Regions from separate parts of the Homo sapiens genome. Here region 1 is linked to region 2. The links come from fine-mapping of genetic effects on gene expression. A gene starts in region 2. The other region holds a variant in brackets. All regions are shown on one strand. Distances are from middle to middle.

Region 1 (4,399 bases), 190 kb before region 2:
TGTTATCTTTAGTTCTCCTCCAGGCATCTTATCAGTACCTGTTTATATGTAATAAGGTAGGGGATTTTTATTTTTTAGAAGTTGACAGTAGCATTCATTGTACAGAGAAGAGATCCACCAATGCTCAAAAAATTACTTGAAACTCCTAGCTGTAGTAGAAGCTATGACCTTGGAGGGCCTAAATGTAAGGATTTGCCCTGCCAGCGATAAGGAGGAGAATTTGTTGGTTGCACTGGAGAGGGAGAACAGAGCTAGAGAAAGACAGAAAAGGAGAGAATGTCCATCATTGTTTATAATTCCTTATGTCTTTCCAAAACACTTCAAGCCTAAACTACCAAAACTCTCACTGTGATTGGAACTTATATGAAAATTGATGAAGGGACTATAGTTTTGGTCCCAGTCCAAAGAAGAAACAAGATAAAAAGTCAAACTTAATTGTATTAACCATGACTTTTTGTTTTCCGTATTTTGATGCTTTGATGTATGGGGTCTTGCTGATCCTGAAGGGCTACCTCTCCCAGGGTTAGCCAATTCCTAGGGATAGTAAACAATTCACCCCTAAGTACACCTTTCAAAGGACCAAACAATCCATGGTCCACACCTCCAAACTACCTTTCTTGTCAGGCTCTGGGCCACTATCCACCCACCTTAAACATCCCAGGGCCAGGGATTAGGCAACTCGAAACAGCTACTATGACTCAGAGCCTGGAATTATTCAAACTAGACAATCCTTCACCATTTTATCCTGCCTTGGCTGTTTCTTCCAGCAGAAACCACAATAAAGGCTCTTGCCTAAAGTGACCCCCGCCGTGTCTGCCTCCAGCCTGACCCTGGTGCTTCTCCTGTGGCCCCCATGGCACCATGCCCCCTCCTCTTGAGAACAGTGAGCAACAAACTATCTTTTCAATGACAATTGTCTCCTGATCTGTTGCCCTTGCTGTATCTCAAACTTTCTATTAATAAACTGAACTTTAAAACACTGGTGGAAAAAAACTGAAAGGAAACTACAAGGAAAGAATACATTGGAAGTTACTGATGCTGTGAAAGAGTTCTGAATTCTCAGATCTCAGCTTGGGTTGAGCCAAAATTACTTTAACCCCTGAGAGGGAAGAAGACCCCATACTTGGTTCTGAAGAAGTTATCTTTGCTTCCCCTCAGCACTACTCACCTCCCTTCCCCTGTTACTTGGTGTGAATCGCTAACCCAATAACAACCTCAACAAATTTTTTTCATGACACCAGGGATTCTCATATGTATGTTAGAATCCTAGAGCAGGAAAGGATCTTACCGTTGCACATTTTCAGCTCTGAACCAAAGCATGAATCTCCAATCCTAGACTTCTGGTCAAGTTTGAACTGAACTCAGTGATAAGTAAAGAATAAAATACTTTGCTTTTTAGGGAAATTTGTCTTTTACTAGTAAAGACGCATTTCAGAAAACAAATTTCAAACATTTTACAAAAATGAAAAAGATCAAAAACTAGGGGCGTGGTAAATTCAGAGTCCTAAAATCACTTCAAAATTTAAATTACTTAGAGGACAGGTGTATATGATAGAAATTACCTTCCATTTCCATTTAAAAGGATGTATTAAAATATTGAGTAACTATAATTATGCTAAATCTGTTCTCATCTCTGATTCATCACAAAATGAATGAGTAATTCAAAGCCAAATATAAATTTTGGCCTATAACTGGCAGAACTGGCAGCCTTTTCAATTGTATGTGAGGATGCAATACTCTTTAACATACACACATGCACACACATACATGCACGCATTCCATTTTCCCCCTAATTTTAAAGATGTGAGCAGATGTCTTGTGACCCAGAAAAAAGCATGTATGAAAACAGTTTAATCAAGAACTAAAAATAACTTTTTAACTATTTGGGAATATATATATCTGTGTGTGTGTGTGTGTGTGTGTGTGTGTGTGTACCAAGTATATGTGTAAATATATAATTATATAACATACATACATATATAATTATATATGTGTGTGTATATATATAAAAAACACCAATTTGTGTGTGTGTGTATATACATATATATGTGTATATATATGTGTGTGTGTATATATATATATATGATCGGTGTTCTATATTGGAATAAATCATTAATGGTAAGCCATTTAAATAAATGAAAATACTTTGGGTTATTTTTACCCAGCAAGCTGAAATTTTCTCAAAGCAAATTTGTATGTAAACAATCTATGTTGTTCAACTTTAAAAAAATTAATGATTTTGTAAGTACATTACCTCATTTTCAACAAATGCTTCCAAAGTTGCCAATTGAAGGTGTCAAAACGAGTCAAGAATTCCTGAATTTTCATCTTTGTATTCTCAGCATTGGCACGGTTATCTGTCATATTGTGGATACTAAAGAGATGTTTTTAATGACTGAATGAAGCAGAATGAAGAATATACTTGCAATGATGGCCATAAAATGATGAGGATCCTCCAGAGGCAGATATGAGACAAATTAACATGAGTATCTTTAATTTTGATATATTATGAAAAATTCTTGTGCACAGGAATCCGCCCAAATGACATAGAACTCTGATTGATTTCTGTACCTTGAAAGGCACAGAAAATTATATAGCAGAACATTATACATTTCCAAGTAATATGTCGATTTTTGGATAATTTTTCTTAC[C/A]TTTTTTTTAAAACCTCACTTTTACATATGAGGAGATGATGCTTAAAAAAAAAAGAGGCAAGGCTTCTCAAATAAAGCATAGAATTGTTTGAAAGGAATTGGAGACCAATGTGCAATTAGTAGAAAACATTATCAGACTACAATATAAAACATAACTGAAAGGAAAACATTGAGTTAGAAAGTCAAAAGTCTATGTCTTCACGAGCATATAGGCACTAAAGCTTCTGAATATTTCTTCACCATGAAAAGCACTGTTAAAGATCAGAAGGCCATCTTTTTTCTCTGCTTCCCAAATTTCATGTGGGATGCTTGCATCCACCTTTCTAAATTCCCTTTGCCATAACAACTGGACAGATTCATCTCTTCTTCCTCTTCAAAAAGAAAGTTATGGCATGCTGACACAGCTTGCCTTTTCCTGGTGGACAAGTGGATTTCAGCGATGAGTGAACAGTCATGCATCCTGGATTGGGGGCTATACAAAGTCATCTTCAATTCTGACTGAAGTGTCCTTCAAGATGTCCAGGAAAGGGGCAGCTTAAAAAACATATGCAGGTGAAAATAGTATGAGAAGATGTTGGAATATAACAAAGTCAACTGCTGAGGCAAAGACATTTTACTGAAAGCCAAAAATAGTCAGGGAATGAAATACTTTTCATAAAGCCAATTAGAGCATATTCACCTGATGTCATTTGGTAGGTAATTGAAGCCAGGGACCCTTGTTAGTCCCCTCTGGACAGTCAAATGTTGTTTTGGATTCTTTAGTCTATGATACTTGGCTTTATTTTTTGTTAGTTTGTTTGCTTCCTTCTGTTTTTTTCTGTTTTTGGTTTTGTTTTGTTTTGTTTTTGAGAAGGAGTCTCACTCTTGTTGCCCAGGCTGGAGTACAATGGTGCAATCTCGGCTCACCGCAACCTCTGCCTCCTGGGTTCAAGTGATTCTCTTGTCTCAGCCTCCCGCGTAGCTGGGATTACAGGCACTTGCCACTACTCCCAGCTAATTGTTGTATTTTTAGTAGAGACGGGGTTTCTCCATGTTGGTCAGGTGGGTCTCGAAATCTTGACCTCAGGTGATCCACCAACCTCAGCCTCCCAAAGTGCTGGGATTACAGATTACAGGTGTGAGCCACTGCACACAGCCAGCTTCCTTTCGTTTTTGTATTTTGTTTTGTTCATTATGTTTGCATTTCTCACCAATTCTCATTGCTATATTAGATTTATGAGATTAAAAAGATGAGCAATATGGCCTTAAAAAAGATATAAACAGAATAGAAGCAAAGGATGCTCTTTTTTTTTCTTAATCACGAAGAATGAATGGCACTTACAGTAATCAATACAGTCAAAATAAATTACCATCAGTTCAAAGAATGATTAGTGAATCCAGAAAGGTGTCTACACAAGCAAAAATAGCATTATAAAAATAATAAATCTAGGCCAGTGTCAACGCCAAACCATAGAATGGAGAACATAGCCTCTTGTCAAAAAAGGTCTTGATGGAAGTCACCCAAAAAACCTTCTCATTTTCCAGATGAGAATTCTGCAGCTCAGAAACATTAAACGACTTGCCCAAGGCCATACAATTAATTTTGGTAGAACTAGAAAAAAAAATAAAGTTTACTGGTTCCAAATCACCTGCTTTTTCTATCAAAACAGGGTCTTTAATAATTTAAAGAAAAAAAAGTATTTGTTTTATATTTAGTTTTTCATCAAAGAAGGGGTTTCTTCAGGATATGGGAGAAATGTGGATATTAA
Region 2 (4,399 bases):
TTAGAAAATAGAATATAAATTATATAAAACTTGATAATGTAAAAGTCATAATAAACCAAAGTGAGACAGGAAGAAATTGTAATATTTTTCTTATCCTCTCTTATAGGAGTAACTTCCTAGAAAGTCAACAGTCAATTTTTAATACAAAACTGAAAATAATTCCTGCTTGGATAGTAAAGAAAAATATTTATCAAAAAAACTGAAAATAATAGTAAAAAAAAATCAGCAGGGAAGACAGAGAGTGAACTTGAGCTAAATTCCTCATATTTCATAACAAGTGTGATGGTTAATTTTATGAGCATCCAGTAGGTGTCAATATCTATTGCCTAATTTTAACTTTTAAAATTATATATAACTTATATGGTAACTATTAGAAAAATTAAAAACAAAAGTTTGTGGTACCTTAAGAAATAGCAACATAAGCAAACTATTAACGGCATAGGGAGGACTATCAGAAAAGCTAAATAACTAGGGAAAGGGAAGATCTTTGTTTCACACCATTTCCATTTTTATTACAATTATCAGATATTATTTTAAAAAATAATTCTACAATACTATGAAAAATAGTAATACTCTGTAAAGAAAGGATAAACTGAAGAGGGTATCTTTCAATTCTGTCATGGTAAAATAACAGACCAATAAATGCTACCAGACCATAAGCCCAGTGAGGTAGAGAAGGAGAACAAGGATAATATATAAACACATTCCACTCTAATCTTCTTTACTGATTCTTTGTTTCTACATCATTACAGGCTAAATGGCCCATTTTTTTTTTCATATAAACTTCTAAAGAGACATTCATTTCATTGACTTCAACTATTGAGTCACACCCACTCCAGTCTACAACCTTGCACATTTCCTTTAAAGAAAGGAGCTGTCTCAATTCAGACACTGTTGGCGGGAGCCGACATTAGATAATCACCCTTTTAGGGCATAATTTAGCAGTCTTTAATGAAGTGTTAAAAAAAATGACTGCATTTTGACCTAATAATTTCACTTCTTTGAATCCACTCTGCAGAAACACTCCCGAATGTTCAAAGATATCTGTAAAAGGAATTTCAATTAAGCCACTACTGTTTACGACAGAGGAAAACTGAAAAGAACCTAAATGCACATTGGTAGATGCAGAATAATTTGTTGCCATTTAAAATATACATCTACATGTAAAATACATATCTACGTGTAGTGACAGTGAAAGATGTCCCTAACATATTGTTAGGCAAGAAAAGCAAAAATTCAGAATTACTATACAATTTTTGTAAAAAAAAAAAGTATATGCATATATCACATACATAAATGTGTACAAGCAGTGTGCTTAAGATGTGTGGAGGAAACACTGTAAGTTTTCACTATGTACATTTCTTTATTATTATTTTACAACCAGCATGTATTGTTTTAGTATTTTAAGAAATCAGGTCATGTCTCAATTGTCATATATCTGGGATTAAAAAAGAAAAAAAAATCCAAAAAGGGAAATATTCAACGTTTTTCCATTAGTTCATTCTCAATATCTATGAAAAAAATCTAAGTAGCACATTGCTGTCTAGGATTAGCGAAAACGCTAGTTTCGTTGGTTGGATCGTTTTGGGTTTTTTTTAGTGAATTAGAGCAGGAAAATGAGGACACAAAACCCAACCAAGGCGGAGTTGGGCTGTTGAAGCCATCAGCGGCGCGCGGCCGGGCAGCCAAGGGACCCGCGAAGGGGGGGACTCGGAGGTCGAGGGGCACTCGGAGGGCGAAGGGAGCCCCGGGCGGGAGACGAAGGGCACTGGCCCGTGACGCAGGCGCGGTTGGAAAGAAGCTGAGGACTGGATGTGCGGAAACCAGGTCAGAGGGGCAGGCAACAGAGTGGGCGGGAAGGCGGCCGGGAGCGCTATACGGGTCTAGGGAATCAGTAGGAAGCCGGAGGCGCGGCTGGCGGCGACAGCGTGGCCGGCAGAGCAGGGTCAGCCCAGGTCGCCCGGGGAGTGCGCAGGGACGCGGGCAAAAAGCCCGGGACGCGCGCCGCCGGGGCCTGCGGGGCCTGCCCGAGGCCGAGGCCCCGGTTGGGGGTGCGGGCCGGAGCTCCCGCTCTGCGCCGGGGGCAGGCGTCTGCTGGCAATACCTTCCCAGGAGAGCTCTCCTCCCGGCTCCCGCTTCAGGAACTTGTACCAGAACGTGTCCACGCGGCCCGGCTCCGCCCCGTCCTGCGCCGCCTCCTCGGCCGCCAGCTCCACCTCCCCGAGCCACAGGCCCGGCTCCTGCAGGGCCAGGGCCCCGTCGCCCGCCGCGGTGCCGGCCGGCCTCAGGCGGACGGCACCGCGCGGCTCCCAACGCCCCAGCTCGGGCCGCGACCCCACCACCAGCAGCTCCGGCCGGGCGCCGGCCACGGCGGGTGGCACCACCACCCCAAAGCGGAAGCGCATGGCGGGCGGCGGCGGCGCGAATACCCGGGCCCGGAGTCCCCGCGGCCGGCAGGCGCGGCCCGAGCACTAGGCGGCCGCAGCGATTGGGCGGTGGTGTGGGAGCCCCGGGCACCGGGGAGAACACGTGCTGTTCTGCGCCTTCTTTGGGATGCATCACGCGGCTCCCGAGCCCAGACTTCGTCCAGGCCGGCGGGAAGGGGTCAGCGGAGCCGCTAGCTGCCTCTTTGTGCCCCGCAACCCCGCGGGCGGTTGATTTCCACCTGTGGGCGCTGGGGACACGCGACCGGAAGAAATGGAAGAGAAAACGGGGTTCGGGGAGGGAGGAAAACTTCTAAGCCAGGCGATCGTCCAGTTCTCTCTCCAAGAGACTGGAAATTAACTTTATGAGGATCATAAGGAAGGGAATGACCTCTAGACAGCCGCCTTCTAATTGTGAAACGGGGGAAGATCTTGGACCTGGTCTCTGGAGCGCTCCCTATCTTAACCAAGTCACTTACTCTAGCAGGTCTCAGGTTCTTTGTCTGTAAAATGAGGGTGTAAAATAATGATCTTTCTAGACCCTACGAGCTCTGAAGGATCTCTGATTGGTGGAGATCACCCAAGACCCGGAGCTGATGCAAAACATTACCTACCATTCCCTTGTCTGAAAAGCCACATCAACTTTCTTTTTTCAAAAACTATATTTTTAGTATGTGTAAAGTAAGTTTGGAGTAAATACTTTCAAGTCCTTTTCAAGGTCAAAACAAAAACTAATTCTGTGACTACAAATGTATGCTTTTTTTTTTTTTTTTGAGACAGAGTCTCGCTCTGTCCAAATGTATGCATTTTTAATGGAGTAAATTAAAAAAAAAAACCTTTGTTTAAAATTTACTTTCAGCAAAAGTCAGCATTATTTTTTCAACTTAAAACCTTTTTGGGTTTTAAGTTGAAACAGGTTTTTTAGCTGTCTGGCCCAAATCCAAAATACGTATATCTTGGTGGGGAACTTCAATTTGTCTCTGCCATAAGACAAACGAATGTCCTGATACTTTTTGATTCTTTAACAAAATTATCCTTGTATTCTTAGGTTTATATATTCACTAACATTTAACATAACACAAATCTGTTACGTGAATTAAAGACACACAAAGGCATTTTTACCAGTGTTTGGAAGTTTGTGAATAGTAAAGGGGAACAGGCCAAAATTTCATGCGTTGAGGATATAAGTAAAACAGAAAGTGCAAAAATGTAAACTACACAAACTCAATCTCTTGTGGAACAATTAGAAAACTAATAATACATTTTACTCTTGAATGTTGATATTCCACTCGAAGTTTGGTTGGTTGCTAAGCTTAAGGATAAACACTATGAAAAATGTGAAGACAGAAGGGCTGGCCAAACACAGCTGATTCGGCAGCAAATCACACATTAAATCACAGTGGCATGTGAGTCGGTTTATTCAAATTGCTGTTAAAAGATATTCTTAGAGTAAGTTTAGGAAAATAAGAGTCATTTGGCGATGCAGAGAGGATTTTGTCTACAGTGGAATCCAGACTCCGGTGAAAGTTCTCATTCCTTCAGGACCTGGGAGCTAACAGCTCCGGACTTTCTTGTGCTCCACTGTGCTGCCTATGTTGTGTGCTTCCCAAATGGCATTATTCCCACCAGCTCTTCCAGAGTGAGTTCTGCCCATTCTGTAGAAGAAACAGTAGCGGAAAAATTAAACAATATCTTTGCTCAACGGACATTGTTTCCTTTACTCTTCTTTCATCATAAAGAGGTTGAAATAATTTTAACCATTGGAAGAAGTAACCCTCTTAAGCCCCTAAACAAAATTTGTAATAGCTTATTTTATGGCAAGGATTTAAATAAGGTATAAATTGGATAGCTGCACTGTGTAGTAAGTAAAATGCAACTGGAAAGGAGAACAAGACCAAAATAGGGCTTAAGGGACATATATCAAGGCCTTGATCATATTTTGACGGTCAGTCATTTGGATGTATAAGTATTAACCA

Alleles and levels. Alleles are on the strand shown, and positions count from the first base shown. SD is a standard deviation of normalised expression in the study named.
For the expression in Th2 cells of the gene that starts at base 2,427 in region 2, C is the high allele of the variant in region 1 and A is the other (large effect, 1.3 SD a copy in Schmiedel 2018).

Evidence for each region. PIP is the estimated chance that this variant, and not a neighbour inherited with it, causes the effect.
Region 1: its variant is the best candidate, but not a certain one, in a credible set for the expression of EPM2A in Th2 cells (Schmiedel 2018, PIP 0.70).

The regions. Positions count from the first base shown.
Region 1 is chr6:145,539,278-145,543,676 of GRCh38, forward strand. It overlaps a transcript of EPM2A not described here. Among named protein-coding and RNA genes, the nearest start is that of EPM2A-DT, 190 kb to the right of the region's middle. The variant C/A (reference allele first, on the strand shown) is at 2,652.
Region 2 is chr6:145,733,094-145,737,492 of GRCh38, forward strand. It overlaps EPM2A (EPM2A glucan phosphatase, laforin), which reads right to left and starts at 2,427. Exons shown (of 4, transcript NM_005670.4): 1 at 2,105-2,427. The coding sequence starts at 2,405. It overlaps EPM2A-DT (EPM2A divergent transcript), which reads left to right and starts at 1,776. Exons shown (of 3, transcript NR_038246.1): 1 at 1,776-1,827. RefSeq lists a silencer at 1,902-2,491 and enhancers at 2,652-2,711, 2,722-2,771, 2,792-2,841.